Linked DNA regions of Homo sapiens: regions 1, 3, 4 and 5 are each linked to region 2. The links come from fine-mapping of genetic effects on gene expression. A gene starts in region 2. Each other region holds a variant in brackets. All regions are shown on one strand. Distances are from middle to middle.

Region 1 (6,405 bases), 86 kb before region 2:
TTAAAATGACTTTAATAAAGACATAAAATGTCTTGTTCCTGAATAAGAAGACTGCATATTTTCAGTTGTCAATTTTCCTAAATTAATCTGTAAATTCAATGGCATCCTAATGGAATTTTAATAAACTTGAACAAATGTTTCTGAAGTTTATCTGAGAGAATATTCAAGTGAGAATAGCCAAGAACAACAACAATTTTAATAAGAGTTATAGAGAGAAGGATTAGATTTAATATATGTTTAAAGGTGATACCAAGCCACAATAAATAAAATGGCATGTTCTCAGCTCAGTAAAAGAGATGTATTCCAATGGAACAGCAAAAAACAAACAGTAATATATAGTATCTTGTTTCATTTTATTTATTTTTAGAGAAAGGGTCTCACTGTGTTGCCTAGGCTGGAGTACAGTGGTGCTATCATAGCTCACTGTAACCTTGAACTTCTGGGCTTAAGCAGTCCTCCTGCTTCAGCCTCCTGAGTAGCTAGAACTATAGGCACACACCATCATACCTAGCTAACTTTTTATTTTTTGTACAGACCGGGTCTCATTATGTTGACCAGGCTAGTCTTGAACACCTGGCCTCAAACTATCCTTCCCCCTCGACTTCCCAAAGTGCTGGGATTACAAGTGTGAGCCACTGTTCCCAGCCCTATCCTACAGATATCTGTACCTTTATGTAAAGCATTTCTGTAGGATAGGGCCATTTATATATGGCTATTTATATATATATAAGCTATTTATATATATAAAATACAGATATATAAATATATATAATACAGATACATATAAATAAATAAAAAAATATATATGGCTTTTATTTTATTAAAAATGACTCAAATGCTACTATGGGTAACAATGTAGCAGTTCCTTAAAAAATTAAACAGAATCACCATATGATCCAATAATTTCACTTCTGAATATAAACCCCAAAAACTTGAAAGCATGAATTGAAACAGATATTTGTATACCTACATTCATAGCAGCATCATTCACAATAGTCAAAAGCAACCCAAGTTCCATCAACCAATAAATAAACAAAATGTGGTATATACATATAGTGAAATATTATCAGCCTTAAAAAGGAAGGAAATGATGATACATGCTTACAACATCAGTGGACCTTGAAGAAATCATATGCTAAGTGAAATAAGGCAGTCACAAAAGGAAAAACACTGTATTATTCCACTTATATGAGGTACCTAGAGGAGTAGAGTTCTTTGAGACAGAAAATAGAAGAGTGGTTGCAAGGGGCTGCAATGAAGTGGGAATGCAGAGTTAGTCTTTAAGGGTACAAAGTTTCAGCTGGGGAAGATGAAAAAGTCCTGAAGATGAATGGTAGTGATTGTTGCACACAATGTGAATGTACGTAATACCTCAAAACTCTATACTTTAAAATTGTTAAAATCATAAATTTTATGTTATATATATATTTAACCACAACTTAAAAAGTGTTGTATGGTAAATGTTGGGATACTTACTAGATTTACATCATCTATTAAAGTATTTTGAAATAAATACTTGTGGCAGTATTTGTTTAAACAACCAAAATGTTCATCAACAAACTATAGTATAACCATGCAACTATGGAACAGCATGCAGCTATTAAAAAGCATAAAGTTGACATATATGGAATGATATACAAAATGTATTGTCAAGTGAAAGAGGAAATGGAAAATTGTATTCGACCTACTTTACATATTTCTTTTGTAAAAACAATATTACATCAAGTTGCCCAAGGGTAAGGCCGTCTAACCCACATGATAGAAAAAGCATCATCTTTGTTATTTTCTTCTTGGGATCACAGAGCCAGTCTCACTCTTTTATATAGTAGTTGGGTTTCCCTATAACAGATAGAAGTTCTCCACTGTCCATTATACTAGGAAGATATTCATCCTGGGACAAAAAATGAGGACTTAGTGAGTAGGAATTAGTCTGAGGTGAGGAGAAATTTTTTCTTTTTTCTCTGGGTTTGAGACTCGGTGACTGTGAGGAGCCAGGTGTCCTGACCTGGGCCTGACAACACAGAGAAAAGCTGATGACAAGTCAGGAAGGTGGCTAGGCCCATAGGTGACCTACAGCAAAATGGACTTGAACTGCAGAAGCAATGTATCTTCCGTGTTGGACTCTCCTTCCATTAGTCTTTGTTCTTCTGTAAGGGGAAATTATGGTAGAGCCCACATCCATATTTGTGGGCAGCGGTCACTGCCAGATAGCAGCCATGTCCTCCAGAGTAGAGATGGTGAGAGTCATCACTGGAACAAGAGGGATACTAACATGAAGTCAGGACCAGAAGAGAGGAATGCCAGGGATGTGTTCCCTAGCACACATTAGGTACCAAAATCCATTAGAGATATCTGAGACACATTCTTTAGAGCAGATTGCATCTTAATCAATAAGACTGGGGGAGCAGTCTCACCATCATGGTTTGGATTAGCGTAATTATAAACAAGATATCTTCTAGGGTCTTTCTGACTCTTAAAGGTAGAAGTGGTTCAACACTGCCAATTCCAGGTCCTGTAGAGTCTAAAACGTTTCCAAGTGTTCTGTGAATTTAGGGGGAATCATGCAGCAAAGAAGTAAGGGGCTGTGTCTCCTGGCCACCTCTGTCTCTCAGCCCATGGGTGCCTGCTTCCACACATATGGGCTTTTTTTCCACACCGCTTCAATATGGTCTTGACACTCACCCCTGTTCCCACAGGAAAAGCTCACTCACACCAACTATTCTGTAGATATAAAAGTCTTTACTAAGCCATTAGGGGAAACATGGCACTGCCTGCTGCACTGCTAATGCCATGATGCCCCTATAAGAAATTGCTGGTCTCCAAATGTTTCCTGGGCACCCCGGCAACATGAATTCTTCTCTTTACTCCTCCTCCATACAGTTCCTAGTCTCACAGCCTCCTCTGGCTCCCCTTCCCTCCCTCTCATTTACTTCTCCCTGGATTATTTGTTCTCTACTCTTCTCTCTGCCCTTTTTTGGAAGGAAAAAAAAAAAAAAAGAACTCCTCTCCTTTTCTCATGCAGAGCAATTCTACCCTGTTCTCTGAAGTTTGTGCATCAACCAATATCTTTTCAACATCTTTAAGGTTTTTCTTTTAACTCAATCATGTATTGGCTTTCCAAACAAAAACTGGCCTCAATCTATAATAAATTTTCAGACCAGTGGTTGAGATAACAAAAAATATTTCCACCTTGATATCTAATATAGATGGATAAATGATAGAAAGAGATTAACCCCCAAAAGTAATTTGGTTTAGTAAATCAAATGCTGATTTACCAAAGAGCCAACAATAAATTATCTATAAGGGAGTGGACTGAATTCTTTTCATTTTCTTTATTGAGTATTTTCAATGATTTTTGAATTTTGATAATAAGCATATATCATTTTCCACTGGAACATCAAAGGTGAGACAGACGAAGCCCCTGCCCTCGGAGCACTCCTAGTCCAGTACACGCAGCCCAGGCATCATGCCTGGTATGCTATGGTTGGTCAGTATGGCTAGTCCCTGGCCATCC[G/A]AAGAACTGAAACATCTAATTGCATTATCATTGTCTGTACTTTGTGGAACTCATTTTATATTGTTTTAAAACATTTTCTAAGTGGCAATAGACCCACTTTCTGTCTCCCAGAACCATAAGGTCCCATCAGTTCCTGGTTTTAATGTGTTTCCCTAATGAGTTCCTTCTAATAAAATCAGCATTTGATTTTTCCTGTCATTCACACAGCAATTTATCTTTTGTCAGGTTTTAATTGAAAACATCCAAATAATTCCTCTGGACCTCCAATGCCAAGGAGCCAGATTAGGCATACTTTTCTGCTCGTCCTGATAAGAAAGCCAGAGAATTCTAATTCTACCAGTTTTTTTTTCTAGGCTTAGAATTTAAATTATTTCAATATATTTATGAAATGAGACAAGTTTCCAGCAAAAGCAGTACTCAGTAATTGGAAAGTCAGTTACCTTTTATCTCTTGGTTAAAAAGAGGAAGTAGGTCAGTTCCTTGTTAATATTATTAGCAAATACTATTTATAGCATGATATAAATTACTGAGAAAAGACATCCTAATTTTTACTTTTAAGCAGAAGGCAATAGTTAACTCATTCTTATTCTTAAACATATTAAGGATACAGTGGACTAATTTTTCAGGAAGAGAGAGTGTGTCCTTGCCACCTTACAAACAACAACTAACTCACTAAGACAATTTTCACTACTCATATCATGTATCTGCTGGAAAGATTTGTCACTCATGCACATCTCAGCCACATATCACAGGTCTATGTGATGGAAAGAAAAATATGAACTTGAGAATAAAATATTTATGATATGGAGTTACTCATGCCCCTGTATTTATAGACTTTTCTGTGTGTATTTATATCTCAACTATAAAACTAAAATTCTGGTAGATATCTTTGCATTTGAATCTTCTGGTGAGGAGATTTAAATTGCCCAACCACTAAATTGGGTGCGTCTGAAATAAATCATGAAGTATTTATAAATACCATCATTTCAAAGGCAAGAAAAGGATATTTATGCATTTGGCTTATTCCTAAACTGAGAATAAGGTTGTCTTGGAGGCAACAAGATTATCAAACAGCCTCTGTGTTTGCACACACCAGAATAAATGGCAATCTGGACATAGAATACAAAAGCAAATATTTCTCAGGAAGAACCATGATTTGCTGCTTTTCATCAAAGTCTGGGTGAAATCATTACCAAATATCTACTTTATTGCCTTGTTCCTAAATGACTTGGAAGGATGGTGACATCATCCTTTGATGCTTAGAAAAGAAGGAAACCATATTTCAGCTAGAAAGGATAGGAATATTAAAACTCTTCAGACTGGAAATTTTTGCATCTGACAACACACCAAAAGCCATTGGGATAAATGTGCTCTCAAGGGCTGTCCTACTTTCAGTTTCCTCTCCTTTCTAAAGATTCTTCAGTTCTCAGCTCTGCTTCTGGAGGGATGCTGGCCAGAGTTCCAGCATAAACGATTCCCTGAGAAATGTTTCATGTTGAAGTCATGCACAAGGCCAGGGAGCTGTGATGAATGGCAGCTCCAAGGGAAGTCGGAAATCTAATCACAGGAGGAGCCTTTGGATCTTTCATACTCATTGACTTCACAGGATTAGTTTTGAGCCTGTAGACTGCGGATTAAAGCAGGAAGACTATAGCTTGTGTCCCTGCCTGGTATCACTTGCAAAATTTAGAACACTCTTCAAAGATGCCAAGAACTGAGATCTGAATTATAATTCTGTCAATTGTTCTTTGCTTGCCGCTTTCGCATTTAGTGCCTCTTCAAATTCTGCAAAACCCTGGATCATTTTGGTGACATGAATCATGATTCTCTACTTGGTATTTGGGAAGAATGACCCATCCACCTCCCAAGGGTTTTTGCTCTTAGTTATTGCTGATCAGTTGGGTTTCCATTGCCTTGAAACCCCAGTCTTATATATTCCTGAGGTATTTGAGTTATTTGTATGATCTATTTCTAGAACACTTATTTTCTTCAGCCAATTAAGTCTACAGGTACACATTGGTTTATTATTTTAGTTTTGAAGAGTAGAAAAGAAAGCATTTTCTTCATGATTTCCCCTTCTCCTATCTGATGAAGCCATTTTGCGGTCACATTAGAAGTTCAATTTTGTTCTCTGATTTTTATCAAGGCAGTGAGGTCCCTTCAGATTTACCCTCTGAGATGCTACCATGCATGTCTTTTAAAATGTTCATGTAGTGCTCAAGAATATAATGAACACCTCACTCATGAAAGAATTGCTTGAGGCTGGGCATGGTGGCTCATGCCTATAATCCGGGCAATTTGGGAGGCCGAGGAGGCCAGATCACTTGAGGTCAGGAGTTCGAGGCTAGCCTGGCCAACATGATGGAACCCCATCTCTACCAAAAATACAAAAATTAGCCAGGCGCAGTGGCGGGCACTTGTAATCCCAGCTATTCAGGGGGCTGAGGCAGGAGAATCACTTGAACCCAGGAGGCAGAGGTTGCAGTGAGCCGAGATCGCACCACTGCACTCCAGCCTGGGCGACAGATTAAGACTCTGTCTCAAAAAAAGAACTGCTTGATAAAGAGACAGACCATTTGAATGGGAGAATTTGAGAGAGAGGCCCTGAAGTCTTCTTTATTATCTAATTTAAGATTTTTTCCCCACATCTACCTCCTTCACCAGCTACTATGGCTGTCATAGAGAGCTTATATTGGGCACACATCGTTTTGATGCTATCGTGGGCTATAAAAAAGTTAGAACTAGTATGAATCTTGTCTTTCTTGGTAAAGTGATTTTTCTCCAAAGCATAAAATAAACTAAAACTCACTTTGGATTACATTATGAGTTGAAGTGTATCGTCCCCACTGCCCCCAAATTCATTAATATATCAAAGTCCTATGAGTGTGACC
Region 2 (6,405 bases):
GGCTGAGGCAGGAGGATGGTTTGAACCTGGGAGGTGGATGTTGCAGTGGGCCAAGATCGTGCTGCTGCACTCCAGTCTGGGCGACACGGTGAGACTCCCTCTAAAATAATTAATAATAATAATAATAATAATTAATAAATCTAAAAGAAGTAGTAGAGGAGAAATTAAGAATTTAGAAACTTGTTGCTTGAGGTGGCTTTGGATTCTTTTTCTCCACCCTTTAATGTTTTTAAAATGTTACTCTCACTTCACATTGATTTCTAGTTGGCAGGGGCTTCTGTACATAACTTCCAAAGTGATATTTAAGAGGAATAAATGCAAAGATCTGCACAGTTTCCAAAAACAAATTGCAAAATACAGGTTGGAGAAGATATGGTTTTATAGCTGTATATATGTTAAAGACTTAAAAAAGATTTGGGGGTAATTTTTGCTTGTTTTTAGTTGGCAATAACATGATATTTATGAACGGTATGGGGTGGTAGAAAAATAATGTGATATCAAACTGAATTTTGAAATATCTTCATTAGGATGCAGAAAATTGTACTCCTCTACTCCTTCCTTTATACTTGGAATATTGTATTCAGTTCTAGGTGCCACATTTTAAGAGACACTGGAGAATGTTTAGATAAATGCGTATGGAGACGAATGAGATGTGAATAAAAAGTGGGTGGAGAAGGCACACATTGTGACTGCTGACTTCAAATGTTTACAAGGCTGCATATGGGGGGGAACCATGCTGTTCTGTATTAAACAATGTTAGTACTAGGTTCAGACTCACTGGACACATTCATACGCATTGCATTCATATTTACAATAATGATTTAAGGTGCTATTATTATCATTTTCTCCTTTTAGAATGGAGCAAACTCATACTTGGAGCAGTTTTGTGCTTTTCTAAGGTCACACAATTAGGAAGTTATAAGCCCAGGATTTGACCAACTTCTTTGGAGTCTAAGTCCAGTGGTGTTTCTACCAATACTGTAGCTACTTACCAAATGTATACAGAGACAGATTTTAGTTGAACATAGAAACTAGCAGGACTGTTTAAAAATGAAAACTGTTGTGAGGTCATGAATGGTTTCCTATCACTTGGAGTTCAAACATATGCTGGATAGCTACATTGCAAGGATCTAGCATATATATATTTACTTTTATAATAAAATATTAAAAACAAATGCTAATCATAGAGCCAAAGAAACTCCAGAAGTAAAGCCTCATGACTATAAGTGATTGAGCTAAGTTCATTCAGTAGTTATTGGAAAACGTAGCATCCAAATTTCATTCTCTGAATTTATAGTTTAATGTTTTTTCCATTATAGCAGTTACCTCTTATCTAACACCTAGGTAATACAATGTGGAACCAGAAGTATGTAAAGAGGAAGGGCAGGGATATTTTGTGAATTATTATAATGGATTGCTTGGCATGCTCTTGTTTTACTAGGATAAGCAAAGAATGTGAATGGTAGTTGGAGAGAGTTTAAAATGATAAGCAGAGAATGCCACATAGTAGAGAAGGGAAAAACAGAATACCACGGAAGGCTAAAAAAGGCTGGGACTGTGGACTTCCCTGTATTTTCTTTTCGTTGAGTAGATGCTCAACATCTATTTGTTGGGATGGAAAATTATTTCAACGCTTCAGCAAACAGTTAAAGAGAACCTTTTTTGTGCTGAGCACTGTGCTATGTTCTGGGGAGCAAAAAAAATGAACTAGACAAAATCCCTGTCCTTTTAAGGAACACACAGTCTAGGAAGAAAAGGCCACCAAGCAAAGCAACAGGAAAAAAGCAAGTATTAAAGATTATCATAGGGAATACTGTAGATAGACGATTTTATGAAAGCAGAGAGAAAAAGAGTATTTAATTCATTGTAAATGTGTGGGGTAAGGATACAGATGTGGTGAAAGGAGATGATGTCAGGGAAGATTCCAAGGAGGAAGGGATGCATTATCTTCATTATCTTGAAGGACAATAGGAGTTCAACTGGTTAAATGAGGGATGGATTTCAGGTGGGGGAAAACTACAAGGGCACAAAGACAAAGTCTGTTGAATTTGTGTGATACGTAGATATATTAGGAGTTGAAGCTGGAGCCAAGGAGGTCAATAGATCAGATTTTAAATGGCTTTGTAAACCATGGTAATGAGTTTGAACCTGATTCAACCAGGTGGAGAGACTTTGAATGATTTTAAAGAGGGACGTTTCATGCTTAGCTCTGTCTTTTTGGAGCATTCTCTCTGGCAGTTATATGGAACTGAAGCAGCAGTGAAGTTAAAGGCTTGACCTAGAGTGGCAAAGAGGTGGAAGTCATGGAGACAGACTGATATTCACAGAATTAAGAGGAAGAATTAATCCACGGGATTTTAAGTCAGAAAACTTTAGTGGAGAGAAATTTGGTTGCTTAGTTGTTGGAATAGGAAGATTTTATCAACGGAATTAGGTGATACTGAAGTGAGTGGCTGAGTGAATAATATGGAAGTCTTGAAATTGGGACCACACAGCTGCTCTGATCTGGTGTGAATTTGCTGATGACTCTTTTGAACTGAATTCAGGAAATGACATACAAATGATTTGCGCAATAAAATGAAAACAAGGACTCTTAAGTCAGTATACTTGGAGAAAAATAACTAGGTTGGTAAAAATGGGGAAGTAGCCATTATCAGGGAGCCCCATTGTGGATTAATTTTGGACTGTCCAGTGGAAAGATCCTCAAAGCAAAACAAATGCCCTGAATCCAGCCCTTCCTCACCGCAACCCTTTCCCTTTCATCTGCCTTCATCCTTCAGCCACACCACCGCTTGGCAGTGAGTACTTGGGAGCAGCTCTTGGAGACTTTGTACTCGAACCTTCGAACTCCAGCATGAGGCCAGAGGAAATAAATGACCTGCCAGGGTGTCAAGTAACGGACCCTCTCTTAAGCCCAGACTTCTGACTCCAGATCTAGGTACCCTTCCACTCTCCAAGACTGCCTCCCGCCTGGGGAGCCTGGGCCTCGGCTAGGGGTGGGGACGGCAGGGTCCGTCCGGAGCGCCAGAGTCCCACTCGCGCCCAGCCCTCAGCCCCAGGCCCGGTTGGACGCCCCGCCCCGCCCCGCCTCCTTCCTCCTTCCCGCGCCGGGCGGGTTGCTGTACCGCCGTCACCCGGGCGCGCGCGGGGTCGCGCGGACGCGGCTCGGGCCGCGGGTGCCGAGAGGTCGCCGGGCCACCCGCACCCCCGCTCCCCGCCTGACGCACGGAGGGGCCGGGACGCGATTTGCCGCGAGTGACTGGAGCCGCAGCCGTCGCCGCTGCTGCCGCCGCCGCCCGGGCCCGCTCCGCCCCCAGCCCGCCTTCCTCCCGCCGCGCCCTCCGCCTCCGCCCGCACCTCGCTAGCGTTCCCCTGTCTTCCCCAACGCCCCGGAGCCGCCGGCCGCTAGCGTCAGCGCCAGCCAGGTGAGTGTGGCCGCCGCTCGGCCCGGGCGGGAGAAGCGCGCAGGCCCCGCGGCCGGGTGGCCGGCTTGGGCCGGTGCAGTCGGCGGCGGCGGCGGTAGCGGGCCCGGCTTTCTTCCCCTGCGCGGGCCGCGGGGCGGAGGGGCTACGCAGTGAAGGAGGGGCGCCCCCGCCCCGCCACCGCCTCTGCTCCCAACGCCCCGACCGCCCCCACCGCCTTGCCGCCACAGACAAAGCGCCGGAGGTGGGAGCCCTGCGGGCCGCCTTTGCCTCCGCGCCGTCTGCCGGGTGCGGCCGCGGCCCGCAGAGACCGGGCCGCGCGCTTTTCCGTTCCTGAGCGCCCTTGTTCATTTCTGGGTGAAAGGGACCCGAATTGTGCAACAGGTTTGGGCGTTAGTCCTTATTTTCCAGCGGGTCTCTTTTGCCAGCGTGCAGGAACCAGATGTGGCTCCCTGCTCTCGGGCGAGTCCCGCGTCCAGCGCCCGCGACTGGCTCCTTTGTGTGACCGGTGACCGGCCCTGTCGGGTGGGTGGAGGACACGGGCTCGAGGCCCCAGGGCTGCGCCGAGGCTCCTGGACGCCTCCTCAGGTCGCGGGGCTTGGCTTCCACGGGCCTGCCAGAGGTTAACATCCCTCCAGCGTTTGGGAGAGTCACAAAGGGGAGGAGAGAGAGGGTTGGCCAGGGTCTGTGGTTGTGTTTATTTTTCTATTTTAGGTAGACTCATATTAGAAAAGAGCCGCAGTCTGACCAGCTCTTGAGGGTACGGGTGGGATTTCACCCTGGGATGCACGGTTTGGACTTGGCTGTTGCTCTGACAGCCCCCGTGGTTTTCTTGGTGCTTTGACATCTTTCTCTTACACACAGACATCGCGGGAGAAGTTGGGAGTGCTGCCGAGGGAGTAACTAGATAGCAGCTGTTTGACAGGTCGTCTCTTACTTCACGTTTTGCTTGTGTCAAGCATGCCCACTATGTATCCCAGCATAGCTTGGCAAACCGTCAAATTTAAATTGCCACTCAAAATCCTAATCCTTATACATACCTACATACACAGACACACATATATCTATATACTTTTTCTGTTTTGGCTGGCTAAATCTTATTAATGTGAGAATTTTTCCTCCCAAGGAAGAATGCATAATAAGGTACAATTTATCTTTGGTTACATACCTTGGTTAAGTTATGCCAATACCTAGCTGGTTTCATTGGTATGCTATTTTAGTTTAACAATACTAATTCCTTTAGCTTTGAGCAGTAAAATACGTCTTTGTTCTAGGACCAGGAAGCTTTTATACGTAATACTTTGCCCCATGACTAAATACGTGAAAAAATTCCCCAAGGACCTAGAAAGCATTTCACAACTCTATAGGCTGTTTTTATGTTCCAAATTCCAGGAAATCGTTTTGTTGAATATTTATTCAAACATTCTGGACTAAATTTAACCTTAAAAATTGGGCCCACTCTAGTTTTTCCCCAGCATTAGAAAAATGAATTGATTGCATTTACCAAACATTTTAGCCCCTGTGAATAAGAATTGAATGGAATAATTGATGTAAGAGATTAGGAGCTAGTGATGGACTAGGAATCTGACAACAGAATGCAGAATGTAGAAAGTTGTAAGTAGAGGTCACAAAGTTGCATCTACTTGGGTTTTAATTCATTGCTAGGCATTTAATGACATTTTAAACAGGTAATCTACTAATGATATATCTGAAAATGAAATGTCCAATAATTAAGAAAACAAAGTATTGCATTTTGACCTTTTTAAAAAATGTATTTTTATAAGGACTTGTTGAAGCTTTTCCACTCTCTAAAAATGAACTTGGTATTAATGACATTTCTTTTGAAAAAATGAAATTGTACCAAACTAATCCGATTTTTAGAAAGTTTCTCTGTTATAGTAGTTTTACTTTACTAAAAATACCATTCATCTGTATAGTAGCTAACTTCAAAGATCTTTTAAAGCTGTTACAAGCAACATGAGCAACCTCTTGAGGAAAGTAGAATATTTACTAATAAAAAGTAGCAAGCAGAGAAGTGAGCCATGATTGGACCACTGCATTCCATCCTGGGTGACAGCCAGACTTTGTCTCAAAAGAAAAAAAAGCAGAGACTTAAATTTTTATAATAGTTTTCTTTGAGATATAATTCATATGCCATAGAATTCACTTTTTTAAAGTATGCAATTCAGTAGTTTTAATATATTCACAAAATTATGCAAATGTCGGCACTAATCCAAGAACGTTATTACCCTAAAAAGAACCTTGTACCTGGTAGCTTTTGTTACTATTCCCCCTTCCCCATATTTGACAACCACTAATTTACTTTATGTCTCTATGGATTTGCCTATTTTGGACATTGCATGTGAATAGAATCATAATATGTGGCCTTTAGTGTCTTTCACTTAACATAATGCTTTCAGGGTTTATTCATATTATACCATGTATCAATATTTCATTCCTTTTATGGCAGAATATTATTTTGTTATATGGCTATGCCACATTTTGTTTATCCAATCTTCAACTGATGGGCATTTGGGTTGTTTCTACTTTTTGGCCATAATAAATAATGTTGTGGATACTCATTTACAAGTTTTTGTATGGTATATATGCTTTCAATTTTCTTGGATGTATACCTAGATGTGTAATTGCTGGGTTATATGGTAATTCTGTTTACTTTCTGAGGAACTGCTTGACTGTTTTCCATAGCTGCTGCACTGTTTTACATTCCTTCTAGCAATGTAGGGTTCCATTTTCTAGGGTAACCCTTCTACATTGCTAGAAGGGTTACATTCCTTCTAGCAATGTAGGGTTATAGCAATGTAGCAATGAGGGTTCCATTTTCTCCACATCCTTGCCAACACTTGTTAATGTTTGTCTTTTTGATGATAGCCATCCTAGTGGCTGTGAAGTGATATCGCATTGTGATTTTCATTTGTATTTCATCTTATCATGTTTTTATTGGCCATTTGTATATAATTTTCTC
Region 3 (6,405 bases), 170 kb after region 2:
AAGAAGAAATAATCTGAAGGTATAAAACTCAGTGGTAATAGGAAGTACAAAGAAAAGCAAAGAATATTATAACATGATAACTATGGTGTGTAAACTGTTATTAAGTAGAAAGACTAAATAATGAACCAATGAAAAATAGTAACAACAACAAATTTTTATGATGTAGACAGTACAGTAAGACATAAAGAGTAACAACAAAAAATTAAAAAGCAAGGGGAATATTAAGGTATACAATATTAGTTTACTTTTTGATTGCTTGCATGTTTGTTTATGCAAACAGTGTTTTTATCAGCTAATCTCAAACCAAAAATCATACAACGTATACAGAAAAAATAAGAAGCAAGAAACTAAATCATATGACCAGAGAAAATTACCTTCACTAAAAGGAAGACAGGAAGGAAAGAAGGAAAACAAGACCACAAAGCAAACAGAAAACAAAACAGTAGAATTATATCATTATTTATCAACAATAACATTGAATGTAAATGTACTAAACTCTCCAATAAAAGACAGAGTTTTGGATACAAAGAAACACAAAACATGACCTATTGATCTGTTTTCTACAAGAAACACATTTCAACTATAAAGACATACATAAACTGCAGATAAAGGGATAGAAAAAGATATTCCATGCCAATGGAAACCAAAAAAGAACAGGAGTAGCTATCATTATATCAGACAAAATAGATTTCAAAACAAAAACTATAAGAAAAGACAAGGTCACCATATAATGATAAAGGGGTCAGTTCAGCAAGAGGATATAACAATTTAAAATATACATGGACCCAACCCTGGAACACTCAGATATATAATGCAAATATTGTTAGAGCTAAAGAAAGAGACTCCAATACAATAATAGCTGGAGACTTCAACACCCCACTTTCAGCATTGGACAGATATTCCAAATAGAAAATCAACAAAGAAACATCAGACTTAAAATGCACTATAGACCAAATGGATCTAATAGATATTAATAGAACATTTCATCTAATGACTATAGAGTGCATATCCTTTTCCACAGCATATGGATCATTCTCAAACATAGACCATATATTAGGTCACTTAAAAAGCCTTAAAATATCCCCTCAAAATTAAAATAATATCAAGCATCTTCTCTGACCACAATGGAATAAAACTATAAAACAATCACAAGAGGGATTTTGGAAACTATACAAATACATGCAGATTAAACAATATGCTCCTGAATGACCATTGGGTCAAAGAAGAAATTAAGAAAGAAATTGGGGGGGAGGAGCCAAGATGGCCAAATATGAACAGCTCCAGTCTACAGCTCCCAGCGAGAGTGATGCAGAAGACGGGTGATTTCTGCATTTCCAACTGCGGTACCAGGTTCATCTCACTGGGGAGTGCCAGACAGTAGGTGCAGGACAGTGGGTGCAGCGCACCATGTGCGAGCCAAAGCAGGGCGAGGCATCACCTCACCCAGGAAGTGCAAGGGGTCAGGGAATTCCCTTTCCTAGTCAAAGAAATTGGTGACAGATGGCACCTGGAAAATCGGCTCACTCCCACCCTAATACTGCATTTATCCAACTGGCTTAAAAAATGGCACACCAGGATATTATATCCCGCACATGGCTCAGAGGGTCCTACACCCATGGAGTCTCACTCATCGCTAACACAGCAGTCCCAGATCAAACTGCCAGGTGGCAGCGAGGCTGGGGGAGGGGTGCCCACCATTTCTGAGTTAGCTGTTTGATTAGGTAAACAAAGCAGCTAGGGAAACTCCAACTGGGTGGAGCCCACCACAGCTCAAGGAGGCATGCCTGCCTCTGTAGGCTCCACCTCTGGGGGCAGGGCACAGACAAACAAAAGCAGCAGTAACCTCTACAGACTTAAATATCCCTCTCTGACAGCTTTGAAGAGAGTAGTGGTTCTCCCAGCACGCAGCTGGAGATCTGAGAATGGGCAGACTGTCTCCTCAAGTGGGTCCCTGACCCCCAAGTAGCCTGACTGGGAGGCATCCCCCAGTAGGGGGGCAGACTGACACCTCACCCGGCCGGGTAATCCTCTGAGACAAAACTTCCAGAGGAACGGTCAGGCAGCAGCATCTGCGGTTCATCAATATCCACTGTTCTGCAGACACTGCTGCTGATATTCCAGGCAAACAGGGTCTGGAGTGGACCTCTAGCAAACTCCAACAGACCTGCAGCTGAGGGTCCTCTCTTTTAGAAGGAAAACTAACAAGCAGAAAGGACATCCACACCCAAAACCCATCTGTACATCACCATCATCAAAGACCAAAGGTAGATAAAACCACAAAGATGGGGAAAAAAAAGAGCAGAAAAACTGGAAACTCTAAAAATCAGAGTGCCTCTCCTCCTCCAAAGGAACGCAGCTCCTCACCAGCAATGGAACAAAGCTGCATGGAGAATGACTTTGACGAGTTGAGAGAAGAAGGCTTCAGACGATCAAACTACTCCGAGCTACAGGAGGAAATTCGAACCAATGGCAAAGAAGTTAAAAGCTTTGAAAAAAAATTAGACGAATGGATAACTAGAATAATTAATGCAGAGAAGTCCTTAAAAGACCTGATGGAGCTGAAAACCAAGGCACAAAAGCTATGTGATGAATGCAGAAGCCTCAGTAGCCAATGCGATCTACTGGAAGAAAGGGTATCAGTGAGGGAAGATGAAATGAATGAAATGAAGCGAGAAGGGAAGTTTAGAGAAAAAAGAATAAAAAGAAACGAACAAAGCCTCCAAGAAATATGGGACTATGTGAAAAGACCAAATCTACGTCTGATTGGTGTACCTGAAAGTGATGGGGAGAATGGAACCAAGTTGGAAAACACTCTGCAGGATATTATCCAGGAGAACTTCCCCAATCTAGCAAGGCAGGCCAAGATTCACATTCAGGAAATACAGAGAACGTCACAAAGATACTCCTCAAGAAGAGCAACTCCAAGACATATAATTGTCAGATTCACCAAAGTTGAAATGAAGGAAAAAATGTTAAGGGCAGCCAGAGAGAAAGGCCGGGTTACCCACAAAGGGAAGCCCATCCAGACTAACAGCTGATCTCTCTGCAGAAACTCTACCAGCCAGAAGAGAGTGGGGACAAATATTCAACATTCTTAAAGAAAAGAATTTTCAACCCAGAATTTCATGTCAAGCCAAACTAAGCTTCCTAAGTGAAGGAGAAATAATATACTTTACAGACAAGCAAATGCTGAGAGATTTTGTCACCACCAGGCCTGCCCTAAAAGAGCTCCTGAAGGAAGCACTAAACATGGAAAGGAACAAC[C/T]AGTACCAGCCACTGCAAAAACATGCCAAATTGTAAAGACCATCAAGGCTAGGAAGAAACTGCATCAACTATCAAGCAAAATAACCAGCTAACATCATAATGACAGGATCAAATTCACACATAACAATATTAACTTTAAATGTAAATGGGCTAAATGCTCCAATTAAAAGACACAGACTGGCAAATTGGATAGAGTCAAGACCCATCAGTGTGCTGTATTCAGGAACCCCATCTCACATGCAGAGACACACATAAGCTCAAAATGAAGGGATGGAGGAAGATCTACCAAGCAAATGGAAAACAAAAAAAGGCAGGGGTTGCAATCCTAGTCTCTGATAAAACAGACTTTAAACCAACAAAGATCAAAAGAGACAAAGAAGGCCATTACATAATGGTAAAGGGATCAATTCCACAAGAAGAACTAACTATCCTAAATATATATGCACCCAATACAGGAGCACCCAGATTCATAAAGCAAGTCCTGAGTGGCCTACAAAGAGACTTAGACTCCCACACAATAATAATGGGAGACTTTAACACCCCACTGTCAACATTAGACAGATCAACAAGACAGAAAGTTAACAAGGATACCCAGGAATTGAACTCAGCTCTGCACCAAGCAGACCTAATAGACATCTACAGAACTCTCCACCCCAAATCAACAGAATATACATTCTTTTCAGCACCACACCACACCTACTCCAAAATTGACCACATAGTTGGAAGTAAAGCACTCCTCAGAAAATGTAAAAGAACAGAAATTATAACAAACTGTCTCTCAGACCACAGTGCAATCAAACTAGAACTCAGGATTAAGAAACTCACTCAAAACCACTCAACTACATGGAAACTGAACAACCTGCTCCTGAGTGACTACTGGGTAAACAAGGAAATGAAGGTAGAAATAAAGATGTTCTTTGAAACCAATGAGAACAAAGACACAACATACCAGAATCTCCGGGACACATTCAAAGCAGTGTGTAGAGGGAAATTTATAGCACTAAATGCCCACAAAAGAAAGCAGGAAAGATCTAAAATTGACACCCTAACATCAAATTAAAAGAGCTAGAAAAGCAAGAGCAAACACATTCAAAAGCTAGGCGAAGGCAAGAAATAACTAAGATCAGACCAGAACTGAAGGAAATAGAAACACAAAAAACCCTTCAAAAGATTAATGAATCTAGTTTTTTAGATTCCAGGAGCTAGTTTTTTGAAAAGATCAACAAAATTGATAGACTGCTAGCAAGACTAATAAAGAAAAAAAGAGAGAAGAATCAAATAGACACAATAAGAAACGATAAAGAGGATATCACCACCAATCCCACAGAAATACAAACTACCATCAGAGAATACTATAAACACCTCTACGCAAATAAACTAGAAAGTCTAGAAGAAATGGATAAATTCCTCGACACATACATCCTCCCAAGACTAAACCAGGAAGAAGTTGGATCTCTGAATAGGCCAATAACAGGCTCTGAAATTGAGGCAATGATCAATAGCTTACCAACCAAAAAAAGTCCAGGACCAGATGGATTCACAGCCAAATTCTACCAGAGGTACAAAGAGGAGCTGGTACCATTCCTTCTGAAACTATTCCGATCAATAGAAAAAGAGGGAATCCTCCTTAACTCATTTTATGAGGCCAGCATCATCCTGATACCAAAGGCTGGCAGAGACACAACCAAAAAAGAGAATTTTAGACCAATATCCTTGATGAACATTGATGCAAAAATCCTCAATAAAATACTGACAAACCGAATCCAGCAGCACATCAACAAGCTTATCCCCCATGATCAAGTGGGCTTCATCCCTGGGATTCAAGGCTGGTTCAACATTCGCAAATCAATAAACGTAATCCAGCATATAAACAGAACCAAAAACAAAAACCACATGATTATCTCAATAGATGTAGAAAAGGCCTTTGACAAAATTCAACAACTCTTCATGCTAAAAACTCTCAATAAATTAGGTATTGATGGAACGTATCTCAAAATAATAAGAGCTATCTATGACAAACCCACAGCCAATATCATACTGAATGGGCAAAAACTGGAAGCATTCCCTTTGAAAACTGGCACAAGACAGGGATGCCCTCACTCACCACTCCTATTCAACATAGTGTTGGAAGTTCTGGCCAGGGCAATCAGGCAGGAGAAGGAAATAAAGGGTATTCAATTAGGAAAAGAGGAAGTCAAATTGTCCCTGTTTGCAGATGACATGATTGTATATCTAGAAAACCCCATTGTCTTAGCCCAAAATCTGCTTAAGTTGATAAGCAACTTCAGCAAAGTCTCAGGATACAAAATCAATGTACAAAAATCACGAGCATTCTTATACACCAATAACAGAGAAACAGAGAACCAAATCATGAGTGAATTACCATTCACAATTGCTTCAAAGAGAATAAAATACCTAGGAATCCAACTTACAAAGGATGCGAAGGACCTCTTCAAGAAGAACTACAAACCACTGCTCAATGAAATAAAAGAGGATACAAACAAATGGTAGAATATTCCATGCTCATGGGTAGGGCGAATCAATATCGTGAAAATGGCCATACTGCCCAAGGTAATTTATAGATTCAATGCCATCCCCATTAAGCTACCAATGACTTTCTTCACAGAATTGGAAAAAACTACTTTAAAGTTCATATGGAACCAAAAAAGAGCCCGCATCACCAAGTCAATCCTAAGCCAAAAGAACAAAGCTGGAGGCATCACGCTACCTGACTTCAAACTATACTACAAGGCTACAGTAACCAAAACAGCATGGTACTGGTACCAAAACAGAGATATAGATCAATGGAACAGAACAGAGCCCTCAGAAATAACGCCGCATATCTACAACTATCTGATCTTTGACAAACATGACAAAAACAAGCAATGGGGAAAGGATTCACTATTTAATAAATGGTGCTGGGAAAACTGGCTAGACATATGTAGAAAGCTGAAACTGGATCCCCTCCTTACACCTTATACAAAAATTAATTCAAGATGGATTAAAGACTTAAATGTTAGACCTAAAACCATAAAAACCCTAGAAGAAAACCTAGGCAATACCATTCAGGACATAGGCATGCGCAAGGACTTCATGTCTAAAACACCAAAAGCAATGGCAACAAAAGCCAAAATTGACAAA
Region 4 (6,405 bases), 20 kb before region 2:
GTTGGGATTACAGGCTTGCACAACCTTACCTGGCTAATTTTTATATTTTTAGTAGAGACAGAGTTTCATCATGTTGGCCAGAATGGTCTCGAACTCCTGACCTCAAATGATTCACCTGCCTCAGCTTCCCGAAGGGCTGGGATTACAGGCATGAGCCACTGCACCCGGCCAATATCAGTATTTTCATTTAAGTTAAAGATTAACAAGGTAACAATAAACGTTTTCCATTTTTGTTGGTAGATTTCAATGTAGCTCAGAATTTGTATTGTAAAAATTTATTTTTTTAAGTTCAGGGGTTCATGCTCAGGTTTGTTATATAGGTAAACTTTTGTCATGGGGGTTTCTTGTACAGATTATTTCATCACCAAGGTATTAAGTCTAATAGCAATTAGTTATTTATCCTGATTATCCTGATCCTCTCCTTACTCCCACCCTCCACCCTCCACTAGGCCCCAGTGTCTGTTGTTCCCCTGTATGTGCCCATGTGTTCTCATCATTTAGCTCCCACTTCTAAGTGAAAACATGTGGTATTTGGTTTTCTGTCCCTGCATTAGTTTGCTAAGGATAAAGGGCTCCAGCTTCATCCATGTTCCTGCAAAGGAGAGGATCTTGTTCTTTTTTATGGCTACATAGTATTCCACGGTGTGTATGTATTATATTTTCTTTATCCAGTCTACCATTGCTGGGCATTTAGGTTGATTCCATGTCTTTGCTATTGTGAATAGTTGTAAATGCATAACTTATTCTTAGATGGTTCCACAAAAGATTATTTCTAATAGTGGTGGTTAGCTCCTAGGAGAGAAACTGGATGGCCCAGGGTCAGGGAGAAAAAAGAGACTTATTTTTCACTGTATATTATTTTGTGGTTTTGAATTTAATATTATGTACATATAGTACTCAAAAAATTAGATTAAGAGACTCAGTATTTAAAAACACTGAGGCATTGAGATAGATTAGGTCTCTGAGTATAAGGATATTGGCAGAAAAGGACCAAGGACTGACAAATGTCTCTATGTGAAGAAGGAAAAAATGTCAGCTAGACACCATTAACAGGGAAATAGACTGAGAAGTGAAAAACAGGATAAAACAGTGTCATGGACATTGAAAGAGAAGAGTTTTGAGAAGAAAATCAAGGGTTCCAAAAGAAAAGATAAATACCATTATCTGTAAAATAATTATAAAACTTTGTATATCAATATCTGCAAAAAAGTATGGCAGAATTTTAAAAAAGTCAATATACTTAGTATAAAAACAACTAATATAAATCAAGGGAAAAAACCCAACATTCTAATAGAAAAATTATCTATGAATAATGAAGGGACAATTCACGAAGAAAATACAATTGCCAATAAACATATTATTTTATCATTCAGGAAATGCAAATTTAAAAAGAAGAAATCTTTGCTTATATATTTAGTAAAAAAAAATTGTAATGAAGTTCTCAATGCCAATGGGAACATGAATTGGGACATATATTTGGAAATTAGTTTGTTAGCATGTATCAAGAGACCTTATAATTGTTCTTTCTTAAACTTTTTTTTTTTTTTGAGACAGAGTCTCACTCTGTCACCCAGGCTTAAGTGCAGTGGTGCCATCTTGGCTCACTGCAACCATTGCTGGCTGGGTTCAAGCAATTCTCGTGCCTCAGACTTCGCAGTAGCTGAGATTACAGGTGTGTGCCACCACGCCTAGCTAATTTTTGTATTTTTAGTAGAGATGGGGTTTTATTTACTGTGTTGACCAGGCTGGTCTCGAACTCCTGGCCTTAAGTGATCCACCCGTCTCAGCCTCCCAAAGTGCTGGGATCACAGGTGTGAGCCACCGTGCCTGGCATGTTTTTTCTTAAATTTGACACTGTATTTTTTATTTCCAGGAATTTGTACCGAGGAAATAATCAAAATTGTCTAATATTATATGCAAAATGTTCATTATAGCATTATATCTGAGAGCAAAACATAAGTCAATTGCAATGTTAATCAATAGGTTAAAAAAAGGTGGTTCATTCATAGGATAAAACACTATATAGTCATTAAAATGATATATCCAAAGATTATCTTATTATGCAGAACGGTGCTCATGGTGCAGATTAAATGTTAAAAGCAGGCTATAACATTCTACATAGGGTAAGAAACAATTTTCTAAAAATGTACATATGTGCATAGTGCACACCTTTTTTTGGTTTTTGTTTTTATAGTCAGAGTCTTGCTCTTTGTCCCAGGTTGAAGTGCAGTGGTGTGATCTTTTCAAATATTCCAAAATGTCTGTATTATGAGATCACTGGTGGTTTTTCTTTTCCTTATGCTTTTCAGAATGGCTGAAATCATCTGCAATGAAAGGTATGTATTTTATAATGAAGAAAGTGATAAATATTATAGCAACAAAAGGGCAGAAAGAAATACATGGTCACCAATTGGATTAGTCCCCTTTTGGGATGCCCAGTTAGCCCACACTCCTCATCCCTGAGAACATCCTCCCAAACCCTGCTCCTTTGCCTTGTATACCCTCTCTCCCAATGGGACTGTCATTCACTCAGTCCACCACCTCTCACATCTGTCTGCCTCCTTCTTAGTTCAGATGCTTATCCTTTCTCACTCAGAAGTTCAAGTTTCCCACATGGTCTTCTACCTTCAGTCTTATAGCCTTCCAATCCAGCTTCCATCTACTTGCAAGTAAGTGTGTTATTTGCAAAATACTAGTGTA[T/C]TAAGAAGGGCAAAAAGGAGAAGGAGAACTTTGTTAGCACCTTGTGTAGTGCCTATAGGTTTAAGTCCAAATTCCTTTGATAAGTTCAAAGTCTTCTGTTATTTTGCATTGCCTTTCATTCTAGCTGTGAAGCCCAGCTTGGTTCCCATGTTCTAGACATACTGAGCTATTTGCAGTGCCCTCAGCAGACCTGGATGCTTTATGTCTCTGCACCTTTGGTCATGTACTTCCTCTGCCACTAATGATGCCATAGCCTGTTTCCATCCACCTGGTCAACACACACTGTCTTTCTAGAAGACTCAAGTGTAAAGCCATTCATGACTTCCCTGGGTAGAGGCAATTTCTCCCTCATTTGTGGTTCTACTTTTTGCCTTTACTGCTTTATATCACATAGTTTGTGCACATCTTCTTTGATAAATAGACTGAACAACATTTGACATCAGAGAATGTCCTTTTCATCCCCAGATCCTAGTTTAGAGACTGGTGAAAACCTAATAACTATTTGTTGATTAAAAGAAAAAGGGAATGAGTGGTTAACAGTATCAAGTACTATAAAGAGGGAAGAGAGGGAAAAAATCACTGAATATGATAATTAAGTAGTCATTGTTAACTTTGAAAGAACTATGTCAGTTGATTTAGTGGGGAGGCTGCAAGTAGTGAATGAATGGTGAACAAGTAATCATTTCAATTCTGGATATTTTTCACGCACAAGGAAGTTGTCACTGAATGGAAGGAAAAAGAAGATAATGGCTTGAAAGAATATTTGAATTTTGGTTTTTATAAATAACAGAAACATAAATATTTTGTAGCTACAGAAAAAGAAATTACTCACAGGAGAATTCTGATGTCACATGGCAAGATTAATTTTACAGGAAGATCTTAAAGCATGCACATTGCAAGTGCTTCCACAATTTATGCATTTCATTTATTATTAATAACTAGGATGAGAAACTCCTGCTGGCTCTGCATTTTCCCACCCCCTCCTCCACAGCCCGCAAAGGAAAAAATATTAGTCGGATCAACCTCAGATTTTCTGGTTCAGTATTAGTGTGCATGAGCCTATGGATTTTATCTTCTGCCCACCTGCTTGGTGAGCTGCTAGGCCTTTGAAGCAAATGGGCTTTCTCTTTCTCTCTTCCTATTAATTTGATAAGACTGTTTGCATATTTCTTAACATTTCATATATTTTATCTGCTTGTGTTCTGGGCTGCACTTTGTATCATTTCTTCAGATGGGTCCTCGAATTTGCCAATATTTTGATTTAGCTCTGCCTAATGTGTGCTTTAACCAATCAATTGAAACTTTTTACCTCAGCAATTCTATTTTTTTAACTTCTAAGAGCTTTATTTGGTTTGTCTTCAAATTTGCCTGGTCTTATAGAAGAGCCTCTTATTGCTTGCTTAATTTTTGTGTTTCTATCTTTTAAAACATTAAACATTTCATATAATTTGTTTCATATTCTTTGTCTGATCATTCCAGTATGTGAAACTCCGATTGAACTAAATGTGATGTTGGTTATTTCTGATACTTTCATGAATTTGCTTGTTTATATTTTTTATAACCGTTGATTATGAACTCCCATTTAATTGATTTTAATCTGTGGGAATCCTGGAGTCCTAATCTGAAGATGTGTTTCTCCAAAACTCATCTTCTGTGTGGAGCCACATGCCCCACTAGTAATCTGGAACCACCGTAACTCCTCTCCAGGTTTCTGGCTTTGTGAGAGCTGCTCTTCATCAGTTCTCCAACTTGCCCCAGGACACTTTCTCTGGGTCAGTCTGACCTGGTGACTTATAGCCCACTGCTTTGCTTTCATTCCCCCAAATCGTGTAAGCCTAGAAGTGCATGGCATTATCGTTTTGTAGCAAAATAAGACCTTTCTCCCATTTTCTTGTGAACCCCTTTCAATCAAACTTCCTCTCCCATCATTCCATCAAAACTGCTTTTCCTAAGGTCACCAATAATCTCCAAGTGCAAGGGTCACTTTTGCACCTCATCTTACTCCTTGTCTCAGTCTGTTTGTTCTGCCATAATAGAATACCTGACATGGAGTAATTTATAAGTAACAGAAATTTATTTCTCATGGTCCTGGAGACTGGGAAGTCCGAGATCAAGGCACTGACGGGTTCAGTGCCTGATGAAGGCTTATTTCTCATAGGTGACACCAACTATGCCCTTATGCCCTCACAAGGTCAAAGTATGGAAGCACAAAACAGACCAAATTCCCTCCCTTGAGCCCTTTTATAAGGACACTAATCCATTCATGAAGGCAGAGCCCTCATGGGCTGATCGCTTCCTAAAAGTCCCTCCTCTTAATAATGTTGCATAGGAGATTCACTTTCAACATGAGTTTTGGGAGGAACACAAATATTCAAACCATATAGTCCTTGCTGTGATGATATTTTTAATTTTTTTATTTTTAATTTTTGTGGGTACATATAGGTGTATATATTTATGGGGTTCATGAGATGTTTTGATCAAGCATGCAATGCATAATAATCACATAATGAAAAATGGTGTATCTATCCCCTCAAGTATTTATTCTTTGTGTTATAAACCATGCAATTATGCTCTGCTAGTTATTTTAAAATGTAAAACTATTATTGACTGTGCTCACCCTGTTGTGTTATCAAATACTAGGTCTTATTTATTCATTCTATTTTTTTGTATCCATTAACAATCCCCACCTCCCCCCAACCACCCCACTACCCTTCCCAAACTCTCGTAACCATCCTTCTACTCTCTATCTCTATGGATTCAACTATTTTGATTTTTGGATCCCACAAATAAATGAGGACATGCAATGTCTGTCTTTCTGTACTTGGCTTATTTCACTTAACATAATGACCTCCAGTTCCATCCATGTTGCTGCAAATGACTGAATCTCATTCTTTATATGGCTGAATAGTACTCCATTGTGTATAAATACTACATTTTCTTTATCTATTCATCTGTTGATGGGACACTTCGGTTGCTTCCAAATCTTGGCTATTGTGGACAGTGCCTCAACAAACATGGGAGTGCAGATATCTCTTCAATATACTGAGTCCTTTTCTTATGGGTATATATAGCAGTGGGATTGCTAGATAGTATGGTAGCTCTATTTTTAGTTTTTTGAGGAATCTCCAAACTGTTTTCCATAGTGGTTGTACGAATTTACATTCCCACCAACAGTATACGAGGGTTTCCTTTTCTCCACATCCTCACCAGCATTTGTTATTGCCTATCTTTGGATATAAGCCATTTTAACTGGGACGGGATAACATCTCATTATAGTTTTGATTTGCATTTCTCTGATGATTAATGATGTTGAGCATCTTTTCATATGTCTGTTTGCCATTTGCATGTCTTCTGTTTTACTTAGCTAATCTGGCTAAGGGTTTATCAATTTTGTTTAACTTTTCAAGAAACCAACTTTTTGTTTCATTAATTTTTTGTGTTGTTTTCTGCATTTTAATTTCATTTATTCTGCTCTGATCTTTATTATTTCTTTTCTTTTGTTTTTTGGGGTTTTGGTTTGTTTTACTTTCCTATTTCTTTAATATGTATCATTCTATTGTTTATTTGAAGTTTTTCTTATTTTTTATGTAGGCATTTATAGCTATAAACTTTCCTCTTAGTAGTGCTTTTGCTGTACCCATAGGTGTTGGTATGTTATGTCTTCATTATCATTTGTCTTAAGAAATTTTTCGATTTCCTTCTTAA
Region 5 (6,405 bases), 940 kb before region 2:
AGATGTTCATCATTGCCCAGTGATTTTGAGGCCACCTTCACTATAGTACCAATGGATGCCACATGGGGAACCAGAAATTTCACTCCCACCCAGCAGTAACAAGGAACCCTCACATTGGGTGTCAACAGTGATCAAATAGGGAAACTAGACATCTTCCTCCACTTGGCCCTAACAAAGCCCGTGTCTTCTCCTCTCTTTCCAGGCCAGAGCAGTGTCAGAGAAAGACAGCTAAAACAGATTTAAATAATATCCAGAGTCTCAAAACATAATATGAAAATATTCAAGCCTCCAGCAAGAATAAATAGAGACAAGACACAAATTACTAATAATAGGAATGAAACAGGGATGTCACTACAGAACCTGCAAACATCAAAATGATAATAAGAGTTACAATGAACAATTCTATATATCCACAACTTAGATAAAATCGACCAATTTCTTGAAAAACACAAACTACTATGACTTACCTAGTATGAAATAGATAATTTAAATAGTCCTGTAATACTGAGAAAATTACATTTGTAATTTTAAAACTCCCAAAAAAGAAAATTTCAGACCCACATGGTTTCACAAATTTCTGCCAAATGTTTAAAGAAAAAATAACACCAATTCTACAAATCTCTTCCAGGAAATAGAAGGGAAGGAAACTTTCCAACTCACTTTATGAAGCTAGCATTACCCTGGTACCAAAGCCAGACAAACACAGTACAAACAAACAAACAAAAAATACAGACCAATGTGCCTCATAATTATAGACATAAAAATCCTTAACGTTTTAGCAAATAAAATTAAGCAATACATAGAAAGACCCCTATACTGTGACCACGTGTGGTTTGTTCTATGGTTGCCAGGGTGATTCAGTCTTCAAAAATTCAATGAATGTGGTCCATGTTAACAGGCTAAAGAAGAAAAATCACATGAGCATATCAAATGAGGCAGAAAAAGCATTTGATAAAATTCAACACTCATTCATGATAAAAACTCTTAGAAAAATAGGAATAAAGGAAACTTTCTCAACTTGACAAAGATCTACAAAAAACCTACAGCTAATATTCATCTTAATGTGAAAGACTGAATGCATTTTCCATGAGACTGAAAATAAGATAAGGAAGTCTGCTGTCACAATTTTTATTCAAAAGAGTGCTGGACAAACAAATGGAAAAACATTCCACGCTGAATGATAGGAAGAATCAATATCATTAGAGTGGCCATATTGCCCTAAGCAATTTACAGATTCAATGCTATTCCTGTCAAACTGCTAATGTCATTCTTTGCAAAACCAGAAAACACTATTTTAAAATACATATGGAATCAAAAAAGAGCCCAAATAACCACAACAATCCTAAGCAAAAAGAACAAAACGGGAGGCATCACATTATCTAATTTCAAACTACAGTACAGGGCTACACTAATCAAAACAGCATTGTACTGATACAGAAACCGCCACATAGACCAATGGAAATAATAGATCTTTAACAAAGTAGACAAAAACAAGCACTAGAGAAAGAACTCCCTATTTAATAAGTGATGCTGGGATAACTGGCTAGCCATATGCAAAAGATTGAAACTGGACCCTTTCCTTACACCATATACAAAAATCAACTCAAGATGGATTAAATACTTAAGTGTAAAACCTAAAACTATAAAAATCCTGGAAGACAACCTAGAGAATACCATTCCGGACATAGGAACAGGCAAAGATTTCATGACCAAGATGCCAAAAGCAATTGCAACGAAAACAACACTTGACAAGTGGGACCTAATTAAAATAAACAACTTCTGCACAGCAAAATAAACTATCAACAAAGTAAACACAACCTACAGAAAGGGAGAAAATATTTGCAAACTATGCATCTGGTATACGTATAATATCTGGATAGGCATAATATCCGGAATGTGTAAGGAACTTAAACAAGTTGAGAAGCAAAAATTCCATTAAAAAGTAGGCAAAGGAAATGAACAAACACTTTGTAAATGAAGAGCTTTTCAGTAGCATACTAAGACGTGTCCAACACTAGAATGGGTTGCCTAGACAAGTGAGTTTCCATGTAATGTGTTCAAGCAGGAAGAATGTTGCAAAAGGCACGACTGCATTTGGAGATTGGACCTCATCAGGAAATCATAAAGTCAAATGCCAACAGGAGGCTAGGTAAAAAATATGAACTATTAAAACATGCTGGGTGATTGTTGCCTTGTAAGAATGCTGAACTGGTGGAACTACCTCTTCTGATGTTTCAAGAGAAGCTGGAAATCTGGCTTTCTATATGACGTCTCCCAATAATTAAAATATCTTCACTAATTTGCCTCTTATGTCCAAATACTATGAGATCTAACACTGTGTAGTCCAAATAAAACATATCTATAACTTACATTGTTTTATTAATTCAAATGAATAAGAAATGGTTTCTATCATTGCATCCCTGCATTGTTAATTTCCAAAAACCTCTTATTGCTGATATTCCATCATAAATTGCTGTTTCCATGAAAACATCTTAAGAATAAATATCTCATTTTCTGCAATTTGTATTTAACAGTAAGGATGCAATTAAGGCAATGTCTTTGTGTTAAGCTCTGCACATGATGGCCCATTTTTTGGGAGGTTATTTATGAAAGCTCCAATTTTCTTGCAGAAAATTGTCTATCACATATTCAGTCAAATAATGACATATTATGTTTCATTGCTCAAATCTACTTCATGAGGGTTTGTCTTTTCTCCAAACGTGAATGGAACTTTCTTGAGGGAAAGTGTCAAGTCTTATAGTTCATTTTTCCATCTCAATTTGCTTACTAAAGTTTGGATCACACAACAAGTGCTCAAATATGGCTACGTCACAAGGATTTATTTACCACCAGACTTTGTGTCCAATAATATAATTGAAGCTATTCCTGGCCTAAAAGGGAAATGGTGGGACAAATGAGTGGGGAGATTGATTAGTCCTACCCTCTATAGACTCATACCATCAATGCTATCACACCCTCCCAGACCATCAGCAGGCCTTTTCCTCTTGACTTTTCAGCACCATTCGTGTCTCCTGCGGAGTTTTCAGGAGTTCCCCAATAGGCTATGATTGAGAGTATCCACTCACTGTTTTGAATTTCAAAAAAAAAAAAAAA[T/AT]GAAGAAAACAATCAGGCAAACTGTGTTTGATGCATTTTATATAACTGTGGCCTTAGAAGGAATTTGCCTTATAGGGCAACATGGGGTTTATCAACCAACAGTGGAGGTAAAATTCTCCTATTCATTACATTTCTATCTTCTAATTTCAAGTAGCTGTTATGGTATCGGTGTCTACAATGTCTACGGCAATTTGAGTGTCCTGTGGCAGATGCAGGGTTTCTAAAAATCAGGTGGAGTAATGGAAAACATTGCAGGTGGTATCTGACAGCAGATCAAAAGAACTCTAAGCTCACAGGGGATTTTTCTTCAAACTTTTCTACTTGCCTATCAGATACTGAGATTTTGACCTATGAAAACAATTTTGTGTTTAAAGAATATAAACTTACTAGAATTTAGATAATATTATCCTAAGGAGGAAAACACACACACACACACACACACACACACACACACACACACACACACACAGTATTCAATTGCCCACTTAAAAAAATGAAACATTTTAAGGGGCTATTCACAAGGTCTTTGAAAATCAAATATGGTACTCTTTTAAGCAAGTGAGAAAAGGTAAAGTTTAGCAATGTTGGTATCTAGAGAAGCGTCATCAAAAACTACTTTTAAGAATGTTTAGTTCCACAGAAAGAAGGAATCTGAGAATCAAAACCTGGTTTCAGAATATCCACCTACCAAGAGTGAAAAGATGTTAAGCTGTTGGGCTTTGGGCAGTGTGCCCTGGGCAGGGCTTCTGACTTTTCAAGACAGAGCAGTGTTCATGTCATTGATTCCTGATCTGACTGAGTTGTGTTCTGCCTTCCCTCCCAGGAGGCTCCATTTCCTTTAACTTTTTCTTTGTTTCTGTCAAACTTACCCACACTTAGCACATTCTTTCACCCAACCGTTGTTCTAAACATGACACGTCCCTTTCTTTCTTCTCTACTGATGTGGTAACTGTTCTTTGGCCTTCTTGAATGTGTTGTTTTATAGAAAGAAAAAAAAGACAAAAAGAGGCCTGTGTCCTACTGAGTATTTCAGCTTCAAAAATTATTTCTGAGGACAAAAGCTGCACTGGGAAGAGTTGGACAGAATTCCGGGCGTAATGGTATGTAAACCTCAATACTAGAATAGTCTTCTCAGATCCTGAAATGCCGCAGAGCAGCACAAAGGAGAGAGACATGCTCTCTGGTATTTCATGTCACCTTTTAGTCCTGAAAGAATAAAGGTTACCAAATGATAGACAATTTCTCTCAATGTGCAGTTCCTTTGCTGACATTGAGTGTTAGATCTAAGTCCAGTGAGAGCAATAGCAACAGTGTTAACATGGGCTTTTTATTTTTATTTTTTCAATTGACAGCAGAAATGAAGGCAATTTCTTGTTTAGCTGGATTACTGAACCAGGCTCTTAACTGGTCATGTCCTTCTGCCTTGTTTCCCCTACCCTCTGTTTTATTTTTCAAGAGTAGCCAGGATAGCAAGCACATCAGATGATGAACTTCTGCAAAAAGCTGCAATAGAGCTGGGGTTAAAACTCGGAGTTGAAGCCTAAGTTTTAAACCATCTCCTCACCCATTCACCCCTTACTGTATTGATATTTATCATTCCCACACCCCCTCACAGTGCTCCAACCGCAAGAGTCTCCACTGTCCCTTGCATACACTGTGCATGCTGTAGTGTTAGGGAATTTTCACTAGCAGAGCCCTCTGCCAGGACTATTTGCTCATCAACACTACTGCCTTCAAGACTTTGCACAAATATCAACATCTGAAATGTCAACATCTCAAAGAGACTCACTTTGAGCATCCTATAAAAACAGAAATTTTTCCCCTGCATTTACTATGCTTCCAACTCTTAATCCTGACGTACTTTTTGTTTGTCCATATTATTACTTACTTACTATTACGTATTATTTATTTTGTTTACTGTGTGCTTACTGTTGAGGTTAACAAAGACAGGAATCTTTGTTTTATTCACCGATTTAACTCAACTCCCTAGAACAGTGCCTAGCATATGTGTAGGAGACACTTAAATTTGTTGAATACATTAGTTAATGGTAAATTGGTTTATGTATTATTTCTTTGAAGATAACAAAGATAGTATTCTGGAAAGAAGAAAAACCACATTGTTAACAAAGTGATTGTGATTCACAGTCACTGGAGAATCAAAAACTGCATATTTTCTGAATTCAAATTCATAGAATTTTGTTTTTCCCCCAGAGATTCATGGAAGATCCTCTGTATCTCTGGAATGAAGGTAAGCTGTAAAGTTCCAAGCAAATTTGAGTTAGCAAGCAAATTGGAAATTTGGAGAGCATATTTTAATTGCCCTTCATCTAGGAAATCATAGCCGCCTTCCCTCTCAAACCAGTTGCCCACCATTAGCTGCAAAAACATGGAAACTAGAATTTTGGTGTGATATCAAAATTCTCTCCCTGCACTTTGGCTCAGTATCCAATTTTTTCCTGTTTCTTGGTGCTCATGTCAGTTAGTCAGACTCCTTCCTTGCTCTGGACATGATCTGCTCTGGGGCCTGGGCCTGTGTCCCTGACTCATGCTTTCTGGTCTCTTAAGCAATGCCTTGTAGCCCTTGTTTTCTAATCTCCTGGCTCTCTGGGTGGGTGGCTTGACTATGCAGACTCATGCCTCTAGCTTGTTTCTTGAGCCCTGGCTTATTTTCCAAATCCATGTAGTAGATCCAGAGATGTATTACTCAGATCTCTCTTCTTGGAAGTACTTGTTGATCGAGTGTGGCGAGTGCTATCAACAGACCACCCCCAACTGTCAGCCTCATCAGGGACTGCCTCAGCTGCAAAGCACTGTCTGCCCACGGTCACAATCTTCCATAGGACAACATGCTTCCCAGGATGGCCCAGTGATAAGTCCTCTAAGGAAGAGTACTTGCTCCAGAGCTCCTAGCCAGTTTGCTGAGACACAGCCAGCCAGGTATCACAAAACAACTTCTCCCTCTCCCAATCCCACTTCCACTCCTTTCCTTCACAGATACTGGCTCCTAATAAACATCTTGTTTCTCCAAATGCCGTCTCACTCTCTGCTTCTAGAGAACCCAACTGGCAACAACCTCCAACACTCCTAACTCACAGAGATTTCAAAAATGGCACTTGGAGAGGTGGAAAGCAGAATATATGTGAGCAACACTCGGACAGCTACAAGATACATGGAGCTTCAATGGTAGATCAGTCTCTACCATTGAAGCAATGCTAAAAACAGTAATGAGTTCTCATTATATTGTGTATTTTCAATATCTGGTGATAATATAAGAACGCAATTTTGCTCTCT

Evidence for each region. PIP is the estimated chance that this variant, and not a neighbour inherited with it, causes the effect.
Region 1: its variant is the best candidate, but not a certain one, in a credible set for the expression of SESTD1 in whole blood (INTERVAL, PIP 0.71).
Region 3: its variant is the best candidate, but not a certain one, in a credible set for the expression of SESTD1 in whole blood (INTERVAL, PIP 0.74).
Region 4: its variant is the best candidate, but not a certain one, in a credible set for the expression of SESTD1 in nasal epithelium (TOPMed, PIP 0.59).
Region 5: its variant is the best candidate, but not a certain one, in a credible set for the expression of SESTD1 in regulatory T cells (Bossini-Castillo 2019, PIP 0.68).

Annotation. Positions count from the first base shown.
Region 1 is chr2:179,347,693-179,354,097 of GRCh38, reverse strand. No RefSeq gene overlaps it. Among named protein-coding and RNA genes, the nearest start is that of SESTD1, 86 kb to the right of the region's middle. The variant G/A (reference allele first, on the strand shown) is at 3,515.
Region 2 is chr2:179,261,519-179,267,923 of GRCh38, reverse strand. SESTD1 (SEC14 and spectrin domain containing 1) reads left to right here and starts at 3,092. Exons shown (of 18, transcript NM_178123.5): 1 at 3,092-3,425. RefSeq lists silencers at 2,991-3,610, 3,621-3,690, 3,799-3,962 and an enhancer at 4,291-4,360.
Region 3 is chr2:179,088,401-179,094,805 of GRCh38, reverse strand. No RefSeq gene overlaps it. Among named protein-coding and RNA genes, the nearest start is that of CCDC141, 41 kb to the right of the region's middle. RefSeq lists an enhancer at 768-937. The variant C/T (reference allele first, on the strand shown) is at 3,265.
Region 4 is chr2:179,281,373-179,287,777 of GRCh38, reverse strand. No RefSeq gene overlaps it. Among named protein-coding and RNA genes, the nearest start is that of SESTD1, 20 kb to the right of the region's middle. The variant T/C (reference allele first, on the strand shown) is at 2,701.
Region 5 is chr2:180,203,496-180,209,900 of GRCh38, reverse strand. No RefSeq gene overlaps it. Among named protein-coding and RNA genes, the nearest start is that of EPCART, 82 kb to the right of the region's middle. The variant T/AT (reference allele first, on the strand shown) is at 3,115.